7 linked regions of the Homo sapiens genome follow. The protein of the gene in region 1 interacts with the protein of each later gene in a pairwise test. Each region holds a gene or a part of one and is shown in the gene's direction. Other genes may lie near its edges.

Evidence for each region.
Region 2: the proteins of GSN (region 1) and NSMCE2 interact in binary tests that used the Homo sapiens proteins (3 or more experiments, as listed by UniProt).
Region 3: the proteins of GSN (region 1) and TRIM69 interact in binary tests that used the Homo sapiens proteins (3 or more experiments, as listed by UniProt).
Region 4: the proteins of GSN (region 1) and OTUD7B interact in binary tests that used the Homo sapiens proteins (3 or more experiments, as listed by UniProt).
Region 5: the proteins of GSN (region 1) and WDR20 interact in binary tests that used the Homo sapiens proteins (3 or more experiments, as listed by UniProt).
Region 6: the proteins of GSN (region 1) and DBNL interact in binary tests that used the Homo sapiens proteins (3 or more experiments, as listed by UniProt).
Region 7: the proteins of GSN (region 1) and ARL2BP interact in binary tests that used the Homo sapiens proteins (3 or more experiments, as listed by UniProt).

What each region holds. Positions count from the first base shown.
Region 1 is NC_000009.12:121,313,162-121,316,661, forward strand, and holds part of GSN (gelsolin), read left to right. Parts: intron 1-772; coding exon 773-862; intron 863-3,500. UniProt on the Homo sapiens protein: Calcium-regulated, actin-modulating protein that binds to the plus (or barbed) ends of actin monomers or filaments, preventing monomer exchange (end-blocking or capping).
Region 2 is NC_000008.11:125,353,860-125,357,359, forward strand, and holds part of NSMCE2 (E3 SUMO-protein ligase NSE2), read left to right. Parts: intron 1-3,359; coding exon 3,360-3,460; intron 3,461-3,500. UniProt on the Homo sapiens protein: E3 SUMO-protein ligase component of the SMC5-SMC6 complex, a complex involved in DNA double-strand break repair by homologous recombination. Is not be required for the stability of the complex.
Region 3 is NC_000015.10:44,760,528-44,764,027, forward strand, and holds part of TRIM69 (E3 ubiquitin-protein ligase TRIM69), read left to right. Parts: intron 1-3,500.
Region 4 is NC_000001.11:149,948,227-149,951,726, reverse strand, and holds part of OTUD7B (OTU domain-containing protein 7B), read left to right. Parts: intron 1-1,505; coding exon 1,506-1,633; intron 1,634-1,948; coding exon 1,949-2,098; intron 2,099-2,643; coding exon 2,644-2,758; intron 2,759-3,500. UniProt on the Homo sapiens protein: Negative regulator of the non-canonical NF-kappa-B pathway that acts by mediating deubiquitination of TRAF3, an inhibitor of the NF-kappa-B pathway, thereby acting as a negative regulator of B-cell responses.
Region 5 is NC_000014.9:102,146,397-102,149,896, forward strand, and holds part of WDR20 (WD repeat-containing protein 20), read left to right. Parts: intron 1-3,500. UniProt on the Homo sapiens protein: Regulator of deubiquitinating complexes. Activates deubiquitinating activity of complexes containing USP12. Anchors at the base of the ubiquitin-contacting loop of USP12 and remotely modulates the catalytic center of the enzyme.
Region 6 is NC_000007.14:44,058,202-44,061,701, forward strand, and holds part of DBNL (drebrin-like protein), read left to right. Parts: coding exon 1-79; intron 80-227; coding exon of another isoform or gene 228-230; coding exon 231-279; intron 280-676; coding exon of another isoform or gene 677-700; coding exon 701-782; intron 783-1,152; coding exon 1,153-1,248; intron 1,249-1,341; coding exon 1,342-1,457; intron 1,458-1,846; coding exon 1,847-1,952; intron 1,953-2,575; coding exon 2,576-2,715; 3' UTR 2,716-3,500. UniProt on the Homo sapiens protein: Adapter protein that binds F-actin and DNM1, and thereby plays a role in receptor-mediated endocytosis.
Region 7 is NC_000016.10:57,248,259-57,251,196, forward strand, and holds part of ARL2BP (ADP-ribosylation factor-like protein 2-binding protein), read left to right. Parts: exon of another isoform or gene 1-278; coding exon 279-385; exon of another isoform or gene 386-1,508; coding exon 1,509-1,594; exon of another isoform or gene 1,595-1,713; intron 1,714-2,152; coding exon 2,153-2,249; intron 2,250-2,938. UniProt on the Homo sapiens protein: Together with ARL2, plays a role in the nuclear translocation, retention and transcriptional activity of STAT3. May play a role as an effector of ARL2.

The sequences.
Region 1 (3,500 bases):
AGACCACTGAGCCCCAATCCCCTCTTTTCTCTTCTGACTATTTCTGGTAGTTTTTGGCCCATTTAGTCACATGGTGGGATTGCCAGCCATTGTGCGTTGAGGACGTATCAATAGAGGCAAGATTCACTAGGAAAAGGAGAAGACCATGAGCTCTGCTCCATGTCACTTGGTTCCTGCTTCTCTGGGGGCATCCAATTCCAGCTTTTGGAGAGAGCAGAATGGTGATTATTATTATGGGAAGGGACCTGGACACCAACCATGGCTTGGGAGGGACAGTGGGAGTGAAAATAGGCTCTGAAGCCACAGGGATGGAGGTTCAGATTCTGGCTTAGCCACCTAATAGCTGTGTGAGTAGGTGACTTCATCTTTCTGGACCTCAGATTCCTCTTCTGTAAAATGAGAGTGATAATCTGTGCCTCCTGGCCTGGCTGCGAGGATGCAGTGACATCTTTTAAAGGTAGGCGGTAGAAGGTGTTCAGTAGCTATAGTTATCACAATTAGCCGGTAGGCGAAATATCTGAAGCGCTGTCTGGAGGCAGAGGAGCAGGAGTGTTCTCCTGGAGTTTCTGAGTCAGGGAGACAAGGTGGAAGGGACCTCTGATGGACAGATCTGGACATGTGAGCAGATGCAGGATGTGTCTGGAGGAGGTCAGACTCCATGGGGAGGGTCACAGTGGATGTCCTTGTGATCCTTGCCTGCCTGGGAGCTATCTCAGGAGCCTGGCCCCTCCCTCACAGCCACCCTTCCTCTCCATCTCTCTATCTCCTACAGGTGCTGGGCCCCAAGCCGGCTCTGCCTGCAGGTACCGAGGACACCGCCAAGGAGGATGCGGCCAACCGCAAGCTGGCCAAGCTCTACAAGGTGAGCACCAGATGCACTGTCTGCCTGGGCATGGGGTCAGGACAGGGAGGTGGAAGACTTGGTCTTCCCCACTCCACTGCTATGGGACCTTGAGCAAAGCACCCCTTTGGAGGGGGGCCTCAGCTTTCTCACGTCTCCAGTGGATGCTCGTGTACTTCCTTTGCTTTCCTGCACTAAGAGCATGCGATCAACTCCGTACATATCTGTGTCACGCTCATACATGAGGTCTCTCTGAGTCTCAGTGTCCTAGTCTGTAAAGTGGGAAGAAGAGCAGAATGGTCGACTTTGTAGGATTTCTGGGAGTCCACAGATAAAATGGATGTGAAAACAGCTTAGAAAATACTTGGGGAAATACTACAGAAATGGTGTGTATGTGGGGAGGTTGGGGGTGTGGGTTATAGTTAATGACTTTATTTATGATTTCTTTCTTGTGATTTTCACAACTGAATTCAGGCTTAGCTTCAGCTAGGGAACTCTCTTGGCTGAGCTCTGGGAGAAAGCTCAATCACACTTACGTTGTGCCCCAAGTATTTTCAGTAAAACAACAAAAAGGGGATGTCGATTTTCACCACTGCCAAAGAAAAACTACTACATTATCGATTTTTTTTCTGATTATGAAGTAATACATGTTTATTGTAAGAAAAAAAAGTATTCAAAATATAAAAAGAAAATAAAAGTCCATGCAATTTCACTGGTTTAAAAAACCAGTATTACTTTTAAAATATGTTTTAATTACAAAAATGACAATACCCAGTTAAAAAATCAGCCTCTCCTCCTCATGAGAGAACACATCTTTGTCCAGCCACAGCTTTCTGTGCCTAGTTACTTTTCCATTTCCATCTTATTATTTTATTTTGAGATAGGGTCTTGCTCTGTCACCCAGGCTGCAGTACAATGGCACAATCACAGCTCACTGCAACCTCTGCCTACCGGGCTCAAGCGATCTCTTGCCTCAGCCTCCTAAGTGGCTGGGACTACAGATGTACGCCACCACGCCCAGCTAACTTTTGTATTTTTTGTAGAGACGAGGTTTTGCCATGTTGCCCAGGCTGGTCTCAAACTCCTGGGCTCATGTGATCTGCCCACCTCAGCCTCCCAAAGTGCTGGGATTACAGACCTGAGCCAACGCTCCCGGCCATTTCTATTTTGTGTAACTGGATCCAAACTATTCATGCTGTTGTGTGGTCTTTTTTCCACTCAACATGGTCGGGAATATCTTTCTATAATAAATCTCAACACGACCCTTTATAACAGCTGTATAGTATTTTATTTTATGAATGTAAGAATTTAAGCAAATCCTGATTGATGGACATTAGGATGTTCCACCTTTTCCAGTTGCAGACAGTCCCTCTTGGTGCACTTGTGCTAAGTACAGCATAGCACTAGGGCAAGTTCCTAGACAAGGAACTGCTGGTCACAGGCCGAAGAATGAGTCAGTAGTTGAAAATACTGGTTCTGGGCCAGGCATGGTGGCTCACCCCTGTAATCCCAGCACTTTGAGAGGCCGAGGTAGGCGGATCACCTGAGGTCAGGAGTTCGAGACCAGCCTGGCTAACATGGTGAAACACTGTCTCTACTAAAAATACAAAATATTAGCCAGGCGTGGTGGCGGGTGCCTCTAATCCTAGCTCTCCTCCTAAGGGAGGAGAATCACTTGAACCCGGGAGGCGGAGGTTGCAGTGAGCTGAGATAGTGCCATTGCACTCCAGCCTGGGCGACAACAGTGAGACTCCGTCTCAAAAATAATAATAATAAATAAAATAAAAAAAGAAAATACTGGTTTTGGAGTCAGGAGTCAGACTACCTGTGTTTGAATTCCAGGTCAGCTATTTCTAGCTGTGCAAGTTCCTTAACCACTCTGTGCCTTGGTTTCCTTGTGAATGAGACAGGGATAGTAACAGAACTATCATATGCAAGGATTAAAGGGGTTCTATAATTATACAAGTTATAGAAATTGCTTAGAACAGTGACTGGCACAGAGTAGTAAGTACTCAATTCATGTAGAATAATTATTATTTAAAGGACTGCTACCTCACAGTCAACTGTACTCTGGAACAGCTCCCAAATTACTGTCATCAGGGATCTTAAATGCCTGTTTACCCAGAGCCTTGCCAACTGGATATTGTTAAACTTTTGAATTTTGACTCTTAAGATAGAACTTTTTTTTGAGCTTGGTTGAACTTTTTATTTTAGAATAATTTTTAAGTTTACAGAAAAATTGTAAAGATAGTACAAAGAGTTCCTATATACCATTCACTCAGCTTCTCCTTAGCATCTTAGCATAACCAGGTACATTTGTCAAAACTAAGAAATTAACATTGCTTCAGTACCATTAACTAAACTATAGACTTTAGCCAGATTTCCCCAGTTTTTTATTCTAGGTTCCAATCCAGGATACCAGATTGCATTTAGCTCTTTTTACTTTTCTTTTTCTTTTCTTCTCTTTTATTTACTTATTTATTTTTGAGACAGAGTCTGGCTCTGTTACCCAGGCTGGAGTGTAGTGACGCAATCATAGCTCACTATAGCCCCGACATCCTGGGCTCAAGTGATCCTCCCACTTCAGCCTCCCAAGTAGCTGGGGCCACAAGCAAGCGCCACCACACCTTGCTACTTTTTGTATTTTTTGTAGAGATGG
Region 2 (3,500 bases), on another chromosome or scaffold:
GCGACAAGGGCAAGACTCCGTCTCAAAAACTAAAAAATAAAAAATATATATATATATAATTTTATTGCTGTCAATTTGTTGTTTTTTTTTGAGACGGAGTCTTGCTCTGTCACTCAGGCTGGAGTGCAATGGCATGATCTCTGCTCACTGCAATCTCCACCTCCCAGGTTCAAGCAATTCTCCTGCCTCAGCTTCCTGAGTAGCTCAGGTTATAGGCGCCCACCACCACGCCCAGCTAATTTTTGTATTTTTAGTAGAGAAGGGGTTTCACCATGTTGGTTAGGCTGGTCTCGAACTCCTGACCTCAGGTGATCTGCCCACCTCAGCCTCCCAAAGTGCTGGGATTACAGGCGTGAGCCACCGCACCCAACCTTGCTGTCAAAATTTTGAAAAAATATTTGTATAATTTTGCTTTGGAAATAGGTTGGCTACCAGTAACTGATTTAATTTGTAATTGACTATTAGTTTCAGCAATTATCTTACCATACTGGGAAATTTTTATGAAGTTTATGAAGAAATAAATCCAGCCCTACATATTACTTCCAAATTATGTATTTTCGATTACCGGATCAACAATTAATGAAGTTAACTTCACATTTGCATAGACCTTTAACATTTAGTAATTTCAGTACTATTGTTATTCTGTTTTGAAGCCAACCAATGGTTTTTAAGGTCTCAGACGTTTGTTTAGCTCTCTGAAAAGCTGGAAGCCCCGAGGCACTGCACCTTAATGCCCAGTGGTTAAAAATGCTCTGACTGGTTATTCCCAAGCCCTGAGATCTTCACTGCCTTCTTCAAAGAATAAAAGCTGGTTTAGGGGACAGCAAGCTGGCATACAAATATACCAGTCTACTCCAAGAAGGTGACTCTCTAAGAAAAACAAAGTAATTGGAGGCAGAATCCCTGTGTTGCAATTAATTCACCAGGTTACCTTGAACAAGAGCTCTGCAGCCCTTTCCCTGCCCCTCAGTACAGCTTGAGCATCCCTAATCCCAAAATCCAAAACCCACAATGCTCCAAAATCCAAAACTTTTTGAGCACCTACATGACGCCACAAGCAGAAAATTCCACATCTGGCCTCATGCAACAAGTACACATGAGTGTTAAAAATGCTGCATAAAATTAGCTTCAGGCTATGTGTGTAAGCTTTATATGAAACATAAATGAAATTCATGTTTAGTCTTGGGTCCCATCCCCCAAGATATTTCATCATGCTTATGCAAATATTTCAAAGTCCGAAATCCGAAACACTTCTGGTCCCAAGCATTTCGGATAAGGGATACTCAACCTGTAGTGCCTTTGCAAACAAACACCTCATCTGGCCTAGGTGATGGCCCACAGTCATCAGTTCTATGGAACCGAAAGGTATGCCACACCATCTGAACCAGAAACAAGGGCTTCCTCTCACACATTGAGGAAAGCCATTTTTATGTCTGTATTATTTTGCCAAAATTAAAGAAGGAAGGGAAGGGAGAAAAGAGTAGAGAAGGGAAAGGGAAAGGAGAAGGAAGGAGAAAGGACTACACCATCAACATGTTTAGAAAGCTACTGATCTTTTGGCTGGGCCCCGTGGCTCATGCCTGTAATCCCAGCACTCTGGGAGGCCAAGGCGGGCAGATCACCTGAGGTCAGGAGTTCAAGACCAGCCTGGCCAATATGGTGAAACCCCATCTCTACTAAAAATACAAAAATTAGCCAGGCATGGTGTCGTGCACCTATACTCCCAGCTACTCAGGAGGCTGAGGCAGGAGAATCACTTGAACCTGGGAGGCGGAGGTTGCAGTGAGCCAAGATCGCGCCATTGCACTCCAGCCTGGGTGACAGAGCGAGACTCCATCTCAAAAAAAAAAAAAAAAAAAAAAAGCTATTGATCTTTAACTTCTGTGCAAAATTACAAGTATCTTTTCTTCAGAGAGAATGGCTTTCATGTGAGATACTCCCATCATCCCATTCAAATGTTGTCTATCATCTGTTTTTGGTTTGGTTTGGTTTTTCAGTTGGGGGCCAATGGGATGTAACTCAAAGAACATCAGTTTCAGAAGCAGCTCATGCTCTGTTCAAAGCCAGTCCTGTCACTATCACTCAGCAGTTCTCAAAGTGCAGGCCAGGGATCTCTAGGGTGCTCCAAGGGTCTTTCAGAGTGTCCATAAGGTCAAAACTGTCTTTATAATAATAGTATGATCTCATCTGCCTGTTTCACTCTCATTCTTTTCATGAGTGAATTTTCCCAGAGACTACAGGATATGTGATATTGTGACAGATTGAATGCATACGCAGATATCCAAATCCAACTGGCTGCTATGAAGCCAGACATTCAAGATATTTATAAAAATGGAAAACAATGCCATTCTTCTCATTATGTATGTCTGTGTGTATGGGGGGGGGTGTTCTGGAAATATAATTTTAACTTTTAAAATGTTTATGGTAACACGTAGTGGGATTATTACTGTTACTTTTAATTTTTTGGTTTTTTTTTTTTTTTTTTTTTGAGACAGAGTCTCGCTCTGTCACCAGACTGGAGTGAAATGGCAGGATCTTGGCCCACTGCAACCTCCAACTTCTGGGTTCAAGCGATTCTCCTGCCCTAGCCTCCCAAATAGCTGGGACTACAGGCACATGCCACCATGCCCAGCTAATTTTTGTAGTTTTGGTAGAGATGGGGTTTCACCATGTTGGCCAGGATGGTCTCGATCTCTTGACCTCGTGATCCGCCCACCTCAGCCTCCCAAAGTGCTGGGATTAAAGGCGTGAGCCACCGCAACCGGCCTTATTGTTATTTTTTAATGAATTTTAAATTCCTTAATCTTAATGTCTAATATGTTAAATATTGATAAATATAACCCACATAGAAAAAGCTTAAAAGAGTTCATACCTATAACTAAAAAGTTTGAGAAGCCCTGCACTACCTAATTGTAATGACTGTTTATTGATTATTGCTTTGTACCATGAGCTGTGCAAAGCATACCACATTCTTCATCTCTTTTAATCTTTGCCACAAGGCTGTAAAGCAGAGGCTTTAAAAAAGGGCACCTTGCTAGCCCAGCGTCTCACCACTGGACAAGAAAGAGATCACCAGGTCGGTTCTCTGACTCTGAAGCCACACCCTTGGTCACTTTCTCTATAACTTTAAAAAAGATTCTTTTTAACTGCTCTGAGCCTCAGTTTCCTTATCAAAAATAGTCAGAATGAGGTACCCCGTAGTGTTCTCTGAAAAGCAGAAGAGTTTCTATGCATCCAGTCCTTACATGGGGGCCAACAGCAAATGCTCCCCCAGAAACTCTTCACCTCCCTTCCTTCCATTCCTTCCTTTTCTTTGACGTTAGACCAGAGAGGCTTATCAACTCTCCATTTTCCTCTAGGTGGTCTTCAAGCTGACAGAGAAGCTGACGGAACAGAAGGAGTGGATGAAGATATAATTGTGACCCAAAGTCAGACCAACTTCACCTGCCCCATTACAAAGGTACCGCTTCCTCCTACTTCCCCTGAAAGAAACACGATTC
Region 3 (3,500 bases), on another chromosome or scaffold:
GGTTATTGATTTAATGAGAAATCACAAATATATCCCTGATTTAATGAAAAATCGCAAATTTTTCCAGGTAATTGACATTGAAGAAAAATCAACTATACTGAGATATAGTTAACATAGAGTAAAATTATCCAATTTTAAGGGCACAATTTGATGAGTTCTGATGTATATATACACTTAGGTAAACCTCTCCATAATCAAAATATAGAAGATTTTTATCACTCCAAAAAGTTCCTACATGCCCCTTTGAAATCAATCTCTTCCTTCTACTCTCAGCCTCTAACATTCACTGACATGTTTTATTTCACTTTAAATGTGTCTTTTCTAAATTTTTGTCTAAGTGATAGCATACATTATGTAGTGTTTTGTGTCTTCTGGTTTTTTTCACTTAGCATAATTTTTTTTTTTTTTGAGATGGAGTCTCGCTCTGTTGCCCAGGCTGGAGTGCAGTGGTGCCATCTCTGCTCACTGCAAGCTCTGCCTCCAGGGTTCATGCCATTCTCCTGCCTCAGCCTCCCGAGTAGCTGGGACTACAGGCGCCTGCCACCATGCCCGGCTAATTTTTTTATATTTTCAGTAGAGACGGGGTTTCACCCTGTTAGCCAGGATGGTCTCGATCTCCTGACCTCGTGATCTGCCCGCCTCAGCCTCCCAAAGTGCTGGGATTACAGGTATGAGCCACTGCGCCAGGCCGCATAATGCTTTTTGAGCACTTATGTTGTTCCATGTATCAATAATCATGATTATTTATTCAGTTTACTTATTCATTTCCCAGTTGATGGACATGGGGTAGTCCATGGTAGTTTTATCCATCCTGCAATTAGTGAAAATCCCAGTTTCTCTATATCCTTTCCAAAACTTGATATTGTCAATCTTTTTAATTTAAACCATTTTATTGAATGTATAGTAGTATCTTATTGTGGTTTTAATTTGTATATCTCTTGTTTTGGTGGGAGGGTGGGACAGAGTCTCACTCTGATGTCCAGGCTAGAGTACAGTGGTGCATCTCAACTCACTGCAACCTCTGCCTCCGAAGCTCAAGTGATTCTTGCGCCTCAGACTCCCCAGTAGCTGGAATTACAGGCGCGCACTGCCATGCCTAGCTAATTTTTGTATTTTTAGTAGAGATGAGGTTTTGCCATGTTGGCCAGGCTGATCTTGAACTCCTGGCCTTAAGTGATCCATCCACCTCAGCCTCCTAAAGTGTTGAAATTACAGGCATGAGCCGTGGTGCCCGGCTGCATATCCCTAATGAGCAATCCTGTTGAGCGTCCTTTCAGGTGCTTCCTTGCCATTCATATATTTTTTTGGTTGTGTTCAAACTTTTGTCTATATTTTTGTTAAATTGTTGTATTATTAAGTTGTAAAGGATACAAATCCTTTATCAGATATATGTTTCTTAAATATTTTTTCTCACTCCATGGCTTGCCTTTTCAATTTATTTTTATTTATTTATTTTTTTGAGATGGAGTCTCACTCTGTCACCCAGGCTGGAGTGTGGTGCAATCTCGGCTCACTGCAAGCTCCGCCTCCCAGGTTCACGCCATTCTCCTGCCTCAGCCTCCCAAATAGCTGGGACTACAGGTGCCCGCCACCACGCCCGGCTAATTTTTTTGCATTTTTAGTAGAGATGGGGTTTCACCATGTTAGCCAGGATGGTCTCGATCACCTGACCTCGTGATCTGCCCGCCTCGGCCTCCCAAAGTACTGGGATTACAGGCGTGAGCCACCGCACCTGGCCATCTCTGGCTAATTTTAGGACTTGCTTTTTGTCACTTGCTTCCATCAATTTGATTATACGTGGTCTTGGTGTGATTTTCTTTGTATTTATTCTGCTTGTGCGTCATTGAGCTGCTTGGATCTAAGGGTTTATAATTTTCATCAAATTTTGAATAATATCAGCTGGTATTTCTTCAAATACTTTTTTACCAACCCCTTTTCTCCTCTCCTTCTTGGAGTCTAATTTTACATATTTTAGACAACTTGATATTGTCAAGTTGTCTCATGTCATCGATATTCAGTACTTTTTTAGCCTTTTTTCACCTCACACTTTATTTTAAATGGTTTCTATTGTTATTCAAGTTCTCATCTTTTCTTCTGCATGGTCTAACCTTCTGTTAATATTGTTCAAGATATTTTCATTTTATATACATTTCATTTCTAGAAGTTTCATTTGGGTCTTTTTATATCTTTCTTATCTCTTCTCACCATGTTCATGCCTTCCTCTACATTCTTGAAAAAATGGAAGACATTTATCCATTTTAATATCCTTGTCTGCTAATTCTATCATCATTGTCATTTCTGGGCCTGATTTTATTGTTTGATTGTTCTCCTGAGAGTCATATTTTCCTGCTGCTTTGTATGGCTAGTAATCTTTTTCTTTTTAATGGGCTTTATTTTTTAGGACACTTTTAGATTTTTTAATTTTACAGAAAAACTGAGAAGATAGTATAGAGTTTTTTATATGCCCCATCCTCACTTTTCTCTATTATTAACATCTTAGATTTAACATTTTTAACAACTAATGAACCAAATTGATACATTATTAACTGAAATCCATAGTTCCTTTAGATTTTCTTAGTTTTTACCTAATGTCATTTTTCTGTTTTAGGTTTCCATCTAAGGTGCCACATTACACTAAGTTGTCATTTTCTTTAGGTGCCCCTTGGCTGTGACAGTTTCTCAGGCTTGCCTTATTTTTTATGACTTAGATAGTTTTGAGGAGTACTGGTCATATATTTTGTAAGGATGCTGCACTATTGCAATTTGTTTGATGTTTTCCTCATAAAATTTGGGTTATTAATTGGGAGAGGAAGACAGTAGCATTAAAGTGTCATTGTCATCACATCACATTAAGTGTTCATACCGTCAACATGATTTATGACTATTGATGTTGACTTTAATCACCTGGCTGAGGAAGTGTCTGTCAGGTTTCTCCACTGTACTCTTTTTCCCTCCTTCTATACTTGTATACTTTGGAAGGCAGTCATTGTGCACAGCCCACGCTTAAGGAGGGGATAGTTATGCTCCCTCTCCCTGAGGGTAGTGTATTAATGTAAATTATTTGAAATTTTGCTGCCCTGGAGATTTGTCTCTTCTGGTTGGTAATTTTTTACTGGATGCCAAATATGATGAATTTCATATTGTTTGTACTGATGAATTCATATTGGTGAATTTTGTATTTGCTGGATTTTGTTGTAGTTCTTTCAGTTCTATTGAATTTAACTCTGGCATGCAGTTAACATGGTATGACATCATTTTGTTCCTTCTGAGGCTTAAATAAAGCCTAGTTAGAGTGGCTCAAGAGCAGCCTTTAATCTAGGGCTAACTTAGCCCATTTTCTAAAGTAATATACCCTTCTGATTACCCTACCTGACGTTGACATATTACGACATTTTTCCATTCTGGTTGGCAAGATTGAAAATTATTCCCAGCCTTGTGTGAGCTCCAGAAATTGTTCAGTCTATTGATTTCTGGAGGTTCTTTCTCTGGCCTTGACGAGT
Region 4 (3,500 bases), on another chromosome or scaffold:
TATTTAAAAAGCTGATTTCTGGACCTCCACCCCAGAAAAGTCCAGTTGAGTTGGACAGAGGTAAGGCCCAGAAATCCTTGTTTGTAATCAGCATCCAATATTGAATAAAATTGCTTTAGGGGGTGGAAGCCATTGAATATTGAGTATGTGAATGACAGGAGCAAATTTGTCCCTCCGTATTTGAACACGCTGACTCCAGTGGATAATGAAGTGGAAAGGAGTGGGATAAGATGCAGTTGTAGTAATCCAGGAAAGGGCCATGGATGAACAGTGTGGTAGACTAAAGATAAGCCCGGGAGACAGATAAAAGAAACACACAGGAAGGCCAGGCGTAGTGGCTCACACCTGTAATCCCAGCACTTTGGGAGGCTGAGACGGGCGGATCACGAGGTCAGGAGATCAAGACCATCCTGGCCAACACGGTGAAACCCCGTCTCTACTAAAAATTTAAAAAATTGCCAGGCACAGTGGCTCACGCCTGTAATCCCAGCACTTTGGGAGGCCGAGGCGGGCGGATCACGAAGTCAGGAGATCGAGACCACGGTGAAACCCCATCTCTACTAAATATACAAAAAAATTAGCCAGGCATGGTGGTGGGCACCTGTAGTCCCAGCTACTCGGGAGGCTGAGGCAGGAGAATTGCCTGAACTCAGGAGGTGGAGCTTGCAGTGAGCCCAAATCGCACCACTGCACTCCAGTCTGGGCGAAAGAGTGAGACTCCATCTACAAAAAAAAAAAAAAAAAAAAAATACAAAAAGTACAAAAAATTAGACCGGGCGAGGTGGCGGGTGCCTGTAGTCCCGGCTACTCGGGAGGCTGAGGCAGGAGAATGGCGTGAACTTGGGAGGCAGAGCTTGCAGTGAGCCGAGATCGCGCCACTGCTCCAGCCTGGGGGACAGAACGAGACTCTATCTCAAAAAAAAAAAAGAAAAAAAAACAAAAAACACACGGGAGATGGAATTGGTTAAATCACGTGACTACTGGAAGGTGAGAGATAAAAGCACAATAAATATTTCCAAATTTCTGATTATGCTACTGGATAGATGGTGAAGCTGTTCTTTCAGTGAGGAAAGGAACATAGGAAAGGAATTGTGTTTGGCTGTTTTTGTAAGACATGAGTGTGATGTGTGGGTGGCTGTAGTATATAAAATAAGTAGGATGAAGCTATGCAGTTGTGTATTGAGCTACTGGATGAAGAGAATGGAGAGAGGCTATTGAACAGGAAGAATATTAAGAGATAGGGATTACCTCCAAATTCCTAACACTGCTTTAACCCTAGAGCCTTCAAATCTCTTTTCTTGGATTTCCCCATCTGTGAAAACGGAGGTAGAAACAGCCATGGTAGCATAAAATAATCAGCTATATCAGTGGCAGCCTTAAGATTGGAAAACCAGGAAAGGACATTCTTCTTTTCCCTTTCTGCAGAACTGGTCTTCAGGGTCTCCTGTTTCTACTCTCTCATTTTTACTGCACCCTTTTCACTCTCTCCCTTCCCGTCGTTCCAGGGTGGAGAGTTCTGAGGAGCCTGTATATGAGAGCCTTGAAGAGTTTCACGTCTTTGTCCTTGCTCATGTGCTTAGGAGGCCCATAGTCGTCGTGGCAGACACCATGCTGAGGGACTCCGGAGGGGAAGGTGAGTCAGCCAGTCAGTCCTCACTCCATGCTGAGCACCCCCTTTTGCAAAGCCTTAGGCTAAGCATTGGAAGGAAGGCAGGAAAGGGGATATATAGACCCTTGGGGAAAAAGCAAGTTATCAATTAGAATAGTGCAAAATTCTCAAGAGATTCTGAGTAAAGCAGTTGGGATTAGTTGACAGGGCTTCTTAGGAAAGAATTATTAAACATGTTGGAATGAAAGCAGGGAGGGACTCAGTTGGCAGAGTGGGATGTAGGGATTGTCCACTAGGCAGAAACACAGCCTTCATAATAATCTTCATGGCTTCCTGCAGCATTTGCCCCTATTCCCTTTGGAGGAATCTATCTGCCTTTGGAGGTCCCAGCCAGCCAGTGTCACCGCTCCCCTCTGGTGCTCGCCTATGATCAGGCCCACTTTTCTGCACTCGTGTCCATGGAGCAGAAGGAGAATACCAAGGAACAAGGTGCTGAATGACATGTCTTTTGGTCTGCATTATTTTCACTTGAAAAAATTGAATGAGATCTAATGTAGGAGGAAAGAATTAAGTGACATGCAAGCCCAGACAGCACATGTTGATACTGTTTTATTAAGCCAGAAGTTACGCCAGAGTTTTCAAATTAAAAAAAAAAGGGTTGGGAGAAAAGCAAGACCTATATACCCTCTTCTGGAGTAAAGGCTTATGATTAAGGTGTAAGAGCTTCTAAATGATGCTTTTCTAATTTGTCTTAAATTATGACTGAATTCTCTGAATATACATTAACTGGAAAGAACATCATGAGAGTTAGTTGACTGACTGGTGGGGACTCAGGGAGATTTGTGGCCTAAAACATATGCTGCGTGGTAGCGGGAAAACTAGCCAATTAGTTTTAATACCGGGGTAATTCACGTGTAAGAATTGAGAAGTGACTACAATTAAAGACCTTAGTATGATTTTAGTGAAATAAGTCTGTGTTCAGTTACCTTTCTCTCTTAAGGAGATTCCTTGATGATATGTTTCTTCCTCTCCAGCTGTGATCCCACTTACAGATTCAGAGTATAAGCTGCTGCCCTTGCACTTTGCTGTGGACCCTGGAAAGGGCTGGGAGTGGGGCAAAGATGATAGTGACAATGTCCGATTGGCCAGGTAAGCCAGGCCTAGTCTTTTCATCTATTTTGTGCTGGGATTTCTTCCACATGTGGCATCCATCTCCCAGGGATTTTTCCTCAGCTCAGGCAAGACAGTCACAAGCTAAGATGAGTTTTGGGAAGATGGGGAGGTAGAGGAGAGGTTGGGCACCAGGACTCTTTCATGGTGCAGCTGCTTTTTCTCCCTGTGAAAGAGATGGGAATCCTAGCATCTCAACTTGTTCTTTTCTTACAATAGGAAAAGTGTTCATACACTGATTCATCTCTAAAACATTGATCAGAAAATCAGGATAATCAGGCCGGGCATGGTGGCTTATGCCTGTAATTCCAGCACTTTGGGAGGCTGAGGTGGGTGGATCACGAGGTCAGGAGTTCGAGACAAGCCTGGCCAATATGGTGAAACCTCGTCTCTACTAAAAATACAAAAATTAGCCAGGCGTGGTGGTGCGTGCCTGTAATCCCAACTACTAGGGAGGCTGAGGCAGGAGAATCGCTTGAACCCAGGAGGCAGGGGTTGCAGTGAGCCGACATCGTGCCACTGCACTACAGCCTAGGCAACAGAGTGAGAGTCTGTCTCAAAAAAAAAAAAAGAAAGAAAGAAAATCAGGATAATCAAATCACATGTCTTAGCCCAAGTGAGAGGAGTTTTAAAGAGTTGATCAAGGCTGGGTGCGGTGGCTTATGCCTGTAATCCCAGCATGTTGGGAGAAACCACCATCAGAGTGAACAGGCAACCGAGG
Region 5 (3,500 bases), on another chromosome or scaffold:
TTGTGATCCACCCGTCTCGGCCTCTCAAAGTGCTGGGATTACAGGTGTGAATCACCATGCCCGGCTAGAAGAGCTTTATGTTCATGATGCTGAGATGAAGTTGGGGCCAGAAGAAGAGTCAGTTGATAAAAGCTAAAGTATTTTTAGATCCTGATTAAAGAAGAAGGTAATGGGTTGACTTGAGAGAGAATGAGCGTTCTGTTATGGGAATGCTCATATGGGAAATGTTCTGTCTCTTTGTCAAAAACTGCAGGACCACCTGTTGGTGACATTGGAGGAATTCCTGCTTTGTGTGGGAGGGTGAACTAGATGCCTTTAAAAAAAATTTCCCCCCCACAGACTTGTTTTAGATATTTTACTGCTTCAGAGAGGGTCATGTTCACACCATTCTCCCCTTTTGTAATTTTTCACACCTCCCTGGCTCCCCTTTTATAATTTAGAAAGAGGTTTAGAAGTCTGTAACTTTTTGTATTAGATTTACTTTGAGAAATCTTGTACTTAATTTAGTAGGTCACAGAGGGTTGCTGAATGACTGGAAACTTGTGTTTCTTTTCCATTAAGGGCTATTTGCTGACTTCTGAAATATTGATGATTTATTTGACTTTAGAATTTTGCATACTGAGGGGAAAGCATCTTAATGTATCATTTAAAGCAGGAGATACTTTCATACTATACCTGGGTTCTCTTGGCTTTGAAGAGGAGGGTGGTCATGAGATATTGAAAGATTGCATGGGTGGCTTGTAATCCCAGCACTTTGGGAGGCTGAGGCGGGTGGATCATCTGGGGTTAGGAGTTCAAGACCAGCCTGGCCAACACGGGGAAACCACATCTCTACTAAAAATACAAAAATTAGCCAAGTATGGTGGCGCATGCCTGTAATCCCAGCTACTCAGGAGGCAGGAGAATCACTTGAACCCAGGAGGTGGAGGTTGCAGTGAGCCAAGATCGTGCCAGTGCACTCCAGCCTGGGCAACAAAGCGAGACCTTCCCAAAAAAGGAGGACTTCATGGGTAGATATGAGCAATGGTGAGAAGCACCTGGAATATGTCATGGAAGTCCGTGAGATAGTCATGAATGCCATTCTTTCAGCAAATATTCATGGAGTATGCCTACCAGATATGAGGTACTGTTTTAGATGCTGGGTGTAGTCAGAGTCTCTGCCCTCAAGAAATGTGTCACTTATACGATATTTATTATCATTGACTTAATATAGTGACTTAAGGGTAAAGTGCTTTGATGGCAAACTTGAGCTTGAGCAAGCATCAAAACATGGTGGATTTTGTCACTGAGTGGTTTGGCTGTATGGCTAAAGAACCTTGTTTTATTTTATTTTAGTTTTAGTTTTAGTTTTGGAGACAGAGTCTCACTCTATTCCCCAGGCTGGAGTGCAATGGCATGATCTTGGTTCACTGCAACCTCTGCCTCCCGGGTTCAAGCCATTCGCAGGCCTCAGCCTCCCGAGTAACTGGGATTACAGGCACCTGCCACCACACCCAGCTAATTTTTGTCTTTTTAGTAGAGACGGGGTTTCCCCATGTTGGCCAGGCTGGCCTTGAACTCCTGACCTCAGGTGATCCACCTGCCTGGGCCTCCCAAAGTGCTGGGATTACAGGCGTGGGCTACTACGCCTGGCCAAGAACCTTGTTTTAAAAATAGGAAGATTTTTGTCGTCTGGAATTTAGTATCTCAGAGAATAATTCTGTTTGTTTCTCAGTGAGGTTAGTTTGTGCAGTAATATGAAATGTGATCTTGTTTGGTTATTCAGGAGAAGACCTTAAAAATAGAAGTAACCTTAATTGGTAGACATTTCTAATTGGTAGACTTCAGTTTTAATTTTCAGGACACTTGAAATTGACAGCATCAGTGACAAGTTACCTTGGCTCTTGCCCTTAATCCCAGTATTTTAGGAGACCGAGGCAGGAGGATTGGTTGAGCCCCAGGAGTTTGAGACCAGCCAGGGCAACATAGTGAGAGCTCATCTCTACAAGAAAAAATTAGCCAGGTGTGGTGGTGCACGCCTGTGGCCCCAGCTATTCAGGTGGCTTAGGTGGGAGAATTGCTGGAGCCTGGGAGGTTGAGGCTGCAGTGAGCGGAAATTGTGCCACTGGACTCCAGCCTGGGTGACAGAGCTGAGACTCTGTCTCAAAAAAAAAAAAAAATCATAATCCTCATTCATCAAGCATTTATTGATGACTGGTATATACAAGGCACTGCTGTCTATTGTGGCGGATGTGAAGTGTATTTAACACTCCTGTCTTTAAAGAGTTTGGCTTTGTGTGTGTGTGTGTGTGTGTGTGTGTGTGTGTGTGTGTTTGGAACAGGGTCTCACTGTGTCACCTAGGCTGGAGGGCAGTGGCACAATCATAGCTCACTGCAGCTTCAACCTCCTGGGCTCAAGTGATCCTCCCGCCTCAGCCTCCTGAGTAATTGGGACTACAGGCATGTGCCACTGTGCCTGGATAATTTTTAAAAAATTTTTTGTAGGCCAGGCGCGGTGGCTCACGCTTGTAATCCCTGCACTTTGGGAGGCCGAGGCGGGCGGATCACGAGGTCAGGAGTTTGAGACCGTCCTGGCTAACACAGCGACACCCCCTCTCTACTAAAAATACAAAAAAATTTAGCTGGGTGTGGTGGCGGGTGCCTGTAGTCGCAGCTACTCGGAAGGCTGAGGCAGGAGAATACTTGAACCCGGGAGGTGGCGCTTGCAGTGAGCTGAGATCGTGCCACTGCACTCCAGCCTGGGCGACAGAGTGAGACTCTCTCAAAACAAAACAAACAAACAAAAAATACATACATAAATACATTTTTTTCTTTTGTAGAGACTGGGTCTTGCTGTGTTGCCTAGTCTGACCTTGAACTCCTGGGCTCAAGTGATGCTTTTGCCTTGTGCTCCCAAAGTGCTGGGATTACAGATGTGAGCCATTGTTCCCGGCTGATTTTGTATTTATCATTATAATACAAAGTAGAGGATATGTGCTCTGCATGTGGCATAGCAATGTAAGTATCAAGTGGAATTAAGGAGTAAAGGTGAAGTGGAAAAGTATTTCTCTGCCTAGTAGAAGAATATTGCATTGGGTTTCAAATAGATAATTTGCCCTAAAATGTTGTGTGCAGATCATATTTTTTATAAATTTTTAAATTTGTTGCCTTGTATTTCTAATTTCAGAAATGCTTTATTTTTATTTCTGATTGAGCGTAAGATGTCCACTGCTCTTTTAGCATTTTTCTCAACTTTTCAGCTTCTCTGCCAGTTGGTAATTTGTAAATTGAGAAATATTTTGTGTCATCAATTCTATTTTATTTATTTATTTATTTGAGACGGAGTCTCACTCTGTCGCCCAGGCTGGAGTGCAGTGGCTCGATCTCAGCACACTGCAACCTCTGCCTCCTGGGTTCAAGCAGTTCTCTGCCTCAGACTCCAGAGTGGCTGGGACTGCAGGCACATGCCACCACGCCCGGCTAATTTTTGTATTTTTTAGTAGAGATGGGGTTTCACTGTA
Region 6 (3,500 bases), on another chromosome or scaffold:
GCCGGGAGCGTGAGCTGCGTGAGGCTGCACGCCGGGAGCAGCGCTATCAGGAGCAGGGTGGCGAGGCCAGCCCCCAGAGGTGAGCCAGAGGTGGAGGCTGGCCTGGGGGACCCACCCTGAGGCATTGCTGGGCACCTGCTCCATCCCATGGAGGCGAGGAGGACTAAGGGGTGTGGCATGAGAAGCTGTGACTGTGCCTCAGCTGTGCCCCACCCGGCCCTTCCCAGCAGGACGTGGGAGCAGCAGCAAGAAGTGGTTTCAAGGAACCGAAATGAGCAGGTAAGATGGGGGTGCTCTACTTGTTTGGACCTGTCCTGGCCACACGCAGAAGTCCCTGATCTCGGATTGAGGGCCCAGCCCAGACCTGGGCAGAGGCTGCCCTGCAGTCAGCTGGGGCAGGTTGGAATCTGGGCACCTCAAGAGGTGGCAGTAGAGAGGAAAGCCAAAGGCGGAAGCGTCGGGCTTGGACCACACCTGGTCCTGGGGGAGGCCCTGGGAGCCCCTTGGCTTCTGTGTTTTACTTCCTTTTTTAACGTTACTTTTTATTTTTAAATGACTTCTCTCCTGAGAACATGTTTTGCCTCCTGGCCCCACACTCACCTTTGAGGGGCTACTGGGCCGACAGCTGGAGGGGCTGTGATCTGGGGAGAGGTGGTGAAGGTTTTGCCCACTGCAGGGGTCAACATGTGCTTCCCTCCAGGAGTCTGCCGTGCACCCGAGGGAGATTTTCAAGCAGAAGGAGAGGGCCATGTCCACCACCTCCATCTCCAGTCCTCAGCCTGGTGAGCTCTCCCTTTGGGCCTGGCCATGAGGCAGCAGCAGGCTGAGGGGGAGCCTGGGGTCCTATGTGGGCTCCCCCAAGGCTAGTGACAGATATATCGGTGACGGGTGAGTGAGTGAGGAGAAGGGACACCTGGGGCCATTGACCTCATCAGTGACCACACTGGTCACCAGTTTGGCCTCCAAAAGATATTGGGCTGCGCTGTCTACCACGTCACCACATAGCACATGGCCCTGGGGCCTCTGTTCCTGCACTAGCAAGAGCAAGCCCCATGAGACTGCCTCGAGCACACCAGGGTGGAGGGTGCTGTGGGGTGCGTGGGTGTGTGGTGGTGTTTCTGAAGTGATGTATATATTTACCCGGGTTTGCAGGCAAGCTGAGGAGCCCCTTCCTGCAGAAGCAGCTCACCCAACCAGAGACCCACTTTGGCAGAGAGCCAGCTGCTGCCATCTCAAGGCCCAGGGCAGGCAAGGCGCTTGTCACCCCATGGGGACCCTGGGGGACAGCAGTGGAGAAGGGGGATGTGTGGGAGTGAGAACCTGCTGTGTTCCCTGGTGCAGATCTCCCTGCTGAGGAGCCGGCGCCCAGCACTCCTCCATGTCTGGTGCAGGCAGAAGAGGAGGCTGTGTATGAGGAACCTCCAGAGCAGGAGACCTTCTACGAGCAGCCCCCACTGGTGGGTTCCTACACTGGGGCTGGGGCCAGGAAGGGGCTGCATACTCAGGAACACTTATCACGGGCCGCCTGAGTTTTCTGGGGGCATGCAACAGGTTTTAAAGCACATGCATTTTTGGAGCAGCCCTGTGTTATAAATTGTCAGGGCACGCCCCACTCTATAGGAGGTGCTGGGTGGGAAGAGGACCTTGCAGCCTATGGCTGAGGGATTTATGCACTGTCCTGTGGCTTCTGTACTCTGGTAGGGCGGGGACAGCAGCAGCCCAGCCCCCGAGCCTGTAGACTGCTTGCCCTCTGCGTACTCCCAGCTTGACCTGAGCCATGTGGGGCAGAGCAGCGATTGTGTGTAAGGGCTGAGTCTGGGGTAACACCTTTGTCATCCCTGGGCAGGTGCAGCAGCAAGGTGCTGGCTCTGAGCACATTGACCACCACATTCAGGGCCAGGGGCTCAGTGGGCAAGGGCTCTGTGCCCGTGCCCTGTACGACTACCAGGCAGGTAAGGTGCCCTGGCCTGGCTGGCACAGACCACAGGGTCCTGAGGTTAGGAGACAAGAGGGTCTGGGGTTTTATGGGAAGATGGCACCAGGGGGTATCAGGAAGAGAAGACAGGAGGGTGGGCGGTGCGTTTAGGGGTAGAAGCACCTCTGGAGTGGGGGTGACTGTGGCACTAGAGTGTTCTGCACAGCCCAGGCCTCCCTACATGTTCCTCATTAGCTATTTGCTGGCCGCTGATGTGAATCCCAGTTGCCACCCTTGTCACAGAACATGGACTCTGAGCAGGGAGGTGGGCCAGGCCTGGATGCTGGTTCACCAGGCGTCCCTGGGTGGAGGCCTTGGAGAATGGGGTGGAGGCCCCCTACGGAGCAGGCTGGTGTCTACTCTAGCCTTTTTTGGGAATGCTCTGTAGGAGGGTATGCCCTGGGGGTGTGGTCACTGGAGCCGCATTGGGACAGGGTGCAGTGTTGGCCAAGGCTTAGCAGGGTGGCAGGGATATTTCTGAGGAGGAACCAGAGCTGCAGCGAGGTGTGCTGCAGCAGTGTGGGGCTGCCGTGGGCTGCCCGAGCAGGTGGGATGTGGGAGGGAGCCCCTGATATGCATCTGGGCTCATCCTCTTTGCAGCCGACGACACAGAGATCTCCTTTGACCCCGAGAACCTCATCACGGGCATCGAGGTGATCGACGAAGGCTGGTGGCGTGGCTATGGGCCGGATGGCCATTTTGGCATGTTCCCTGCCAACTACGTGGAGCTCATTGAGTGAGGCTGAGGGCACATCTTGCCCTTCCCCTCTCAGACATGGCTTCCTTATTGCTGGAAGAGGAGGCCTGGGAGTTGACATTCAGCACTCTTCCAGGAATAGGACCCCCAGTGAGGATGAGGCCTCAGGGCTCCCTCCGGCTTGGCAGACTCAGCCTGTCACCCCAAATGCAGCAATGGCCTGGTGATTCCCACACATCCTTCCTGCATCCCCCGACCCTCCCAGACAGCTTGGCTCTTGCCCCTGACAGGATACTGAGCCAAGCCCTGCCTGTGGCCAAGCCCTGAGTGGCCACTGCCAAGCTGCGGGGAAGGGTCCTGAGCAGGGGCATCTGGGAGGCTCTGGCTGCCTTCTGCATTTATTTGCCTTTTTTCTTTTTCTCTTGCTTCTAAGGGGTGGTGGCCACCACTGTTTAGAATGACCCTTGGGAACAGTGAACGTAGAGAATTGTTTTTAGCAGAGTTTGTGACCAAAGTCAGAGTGGATCATGGTGGTTTGGCAGCAGGGAATTTGTCTTGTTGGAGCCTGCTCTGTGCTCCCCACTCCATTTCTCTGTCCCTCTGCCTGGGCTATGGGAAGTGGGGATGCAGATGGCCAAGCTCCCACCCTGGGTATTCAAAAACGGCAGACACAACATGTTCCTCCACGCGGCTCACTCGATGCCTGCAGGCCCCAGTGTGTGCCTCAACTGATTCTGACTTCAGGAAAAGTAACACAGAGTGGCCTTGGCCTGTTGTCTTCCCCTATTTTCTGTCCCAGCTCATCCGTGTCTCTGAAGAACAAATATG
Region 7 (2,938 bases), on another chromosome or scaffold:
ACCGAGATCGCACCATTGCACTCCAGCCTGGGCAACAAGAGAAACTCCAGCTCAAAAAAAAAAAAAAAAAAAAAAAAAGAAAGAAAGAAAAAGAAAACAGGAGGATTGGGCTATTTCCACATCAGGGTCCCATTTAATACCCCCTTAAAACATCAGCTTTCCTTCCAGAGACTGATCATTGAGAAAGCAGTACTGCTGACATAGATCCTGCCTACTTATAAATCATAATGGTTGGTAATCTCCATTAAAAAGAATAAATTTTCCCCACTGTGGTTCAGATGACGAGTTCCAGTTATTACAGAGAAATTTCATGGACAAGTACTACCTGGAGTTTGAAGACACAGAAGAGAATAAACTCATCTACACACCTATTTTTAATGAATACGTAAGTAGATTTCTATGTCTCCTACCAGGAGGTCAGAGTTTTTAAAAATTTAAATTTAGATTCAAAAGACATTGAAATTTGCTGCCTTTTAAAATATGCCACCAGTACACTTCCAGGAATCCTCATTAGCATCTGGTTTAAGTTCATTTTCCTCTGCACAGCCTTTGGGGCTATTTTCCAAAAGGCTTTCAGGCAAATATTTGATTAACTCATCAGCTTCTTATTTAAAAGAAGTTTGACCTGGGCTTGGTAGCACACCTGTAGTGCCAGCTATTTGGGAGGTTGAGGTGGAAGAATCACTTGAGCTTAGGAGTTTGAGACCAGCCTGGGCAACACAGCAAGATCTCTGTCTCTAAAAAAAAAATGATAATAATAAAGATAATAAATAAAAGACGTTTGGCTTATCATAATCCTGCTTTTAATCACAGTACATGAGTTCTTCATACCTTGCATTTGCATGCTTTTGACAAACCTTTCTGCTTTCACATACTCTTTCTTTCTTCTATATAATCCAGTCATATATGCATGACTATTAAGTAAAAGTGAAAACTGAGACCAAGATCACTAACTATTTGGTGGAAAAACCAAGACTGGAACCCAGGAACCTCAGCTCGTCACCCTTGGGTCTCTACACTTTACCCTGAGGCCTCTTAACAGCCCCCTGGGATTCTGTCATCTAAGAATCCATTTTGGCCTCCAGGACTTTATTTTCTTAACACAGAAGCATGGCATAAACAAACCTGCCCAGAAGGAACCTGTGACTGCCTCCATGTCCGTATGTTCTGTTACACAGATGCCCTCTACCCAGGAGGCAAAGCCCCCACTTACTGCATCCTGCACTGGGTTGTGGGTGTGGGTACCGTGCTACTCACTGTCTCCACCTGTGTCAGAGCATCCACCCTGTTACAGCACCATTATCAGCTAAGGCTTCTCTTCCACACCAGGCTGAGTACTTCTCCAGGACAGGAGCTGTGTTTTGGTCCTCTTTGGTATCCTTGGCACTCAGTGTAGATTGTGGCACACAGACCTCAGGAAATGTTTAGAAAGGGCTGGGCAGGCTTTCTGAAAAGAAGTCTTGTTTTCCCAAAGTATGGTCTCACCAAAATCCTTTCCACTGTTGCAGATTTCTTTGGTAGAAAAATACATTGAAGAACAGCTGCTGCAGCGGATTCCTGAGTTCAACATGGCAGCCTTCACCACAACATTACAGTGAGTTGAGCTTGACTGATTTTTGTGTTTTGTTTTGTTTTCTCACTTTCTTCCTTCCCTAGGCTGACCAAAAGACGCTCCTTGTTTGTTTTCCTGTGCATGCCGTTGGTGGTTAGGTCCTATGGAGGAAGCCCTCAAACCTTTTAATGAAATCTTGAAAAGATCAGGCATTGGCTCACGCTTGTGTTCTCAGTGCTTTGGGAGGCCAAGGGAGGAGGATCACTTGAGCCCAGGAGTTCAAGACCAGCCTGGGTGACATAGTGAGGCCCCGACCCTACAAAAAATAAATTAGTCAGGTGTGGTGTTGCATACCTGTGGGCCTAGCTACTCAGGAGGCTGAGGCTGGAGAATCCCTTGAGCCCAGCAGTTCAAGGCTACAGTGAGCTATAATTGCACCCCTGCACTCCTGCCTGGGTGACAGAGCAAGACCCAGTCTCTAAAAAAACAAAACAAAAATAATGCGGGGGGTGGGGCTGGGGTGGTGGAAAGAAAAACGAAAGCAATCTTGAGGACTGTCTCATCATTCATTCACGAAACAGCCATCTGTTCCGTTTGCAGGCACCATAAGGATGAAGTGGCTGGTGACATATTCGACATGCTGCTCACCTTCACAGATTTTCTGGCTTTTAAAGAAATGTTTTTGGACTACAGAGCAGTAAGTTACTACTCCTATTTATTTAGCCACTTTGAGCCACTTAGAAAATTCCAGGTAGAAATACCGAACATGAACCTCCCACGCTTCCCCCATCATTCTCCCTTCAAACTGGCCGATGAGGCATCAGAAGAGTGAGCTGCTATTCTGTTGTGGCTGGGACCTTCTCATGTTTTCATGAAACAAGCCCAGGTACCAACTTAGAGTTCCTAATCAGAAGGACAAAACCGAAAAAGCAGGTCTCAGGTCTCATTCTGCCTTGCCTTTCTTTTATTTATTTTTTTTTTTGAGACAGAGTTTTGCTCTTGTCACCCAGGCTGGAGTGCAGTGGCACCATCTTGGCTCACTGGAACCTCTGCCTTCCAGGTTCAAGCAATACTCCTGCCTCAGCCTCCCGAGTAGCTGATACTACAGGCACCTGCCACCACGCCCAGCTAATTCTTGTATTTTTAGTAGAGACAGGGTTTCACCATGTTGGCCAGGCTGGTCTCAAACTCCTGAAGCATGGTCCGCCTCGGCCTCCCAAAGTGTTGGGATTACAGGCGTGAGCCACCGCACCTGGCCCTGCCTTGCTTTTCATATAATGCAAGCTCTTTATAAGAAAAATAGGAGACTGGGCATGGTAACTCACACCTATAATCCCAGCACTTTGGGAGGCCGAGGCAGGCAGATGGCTTGAGCTCAGGAGTTTG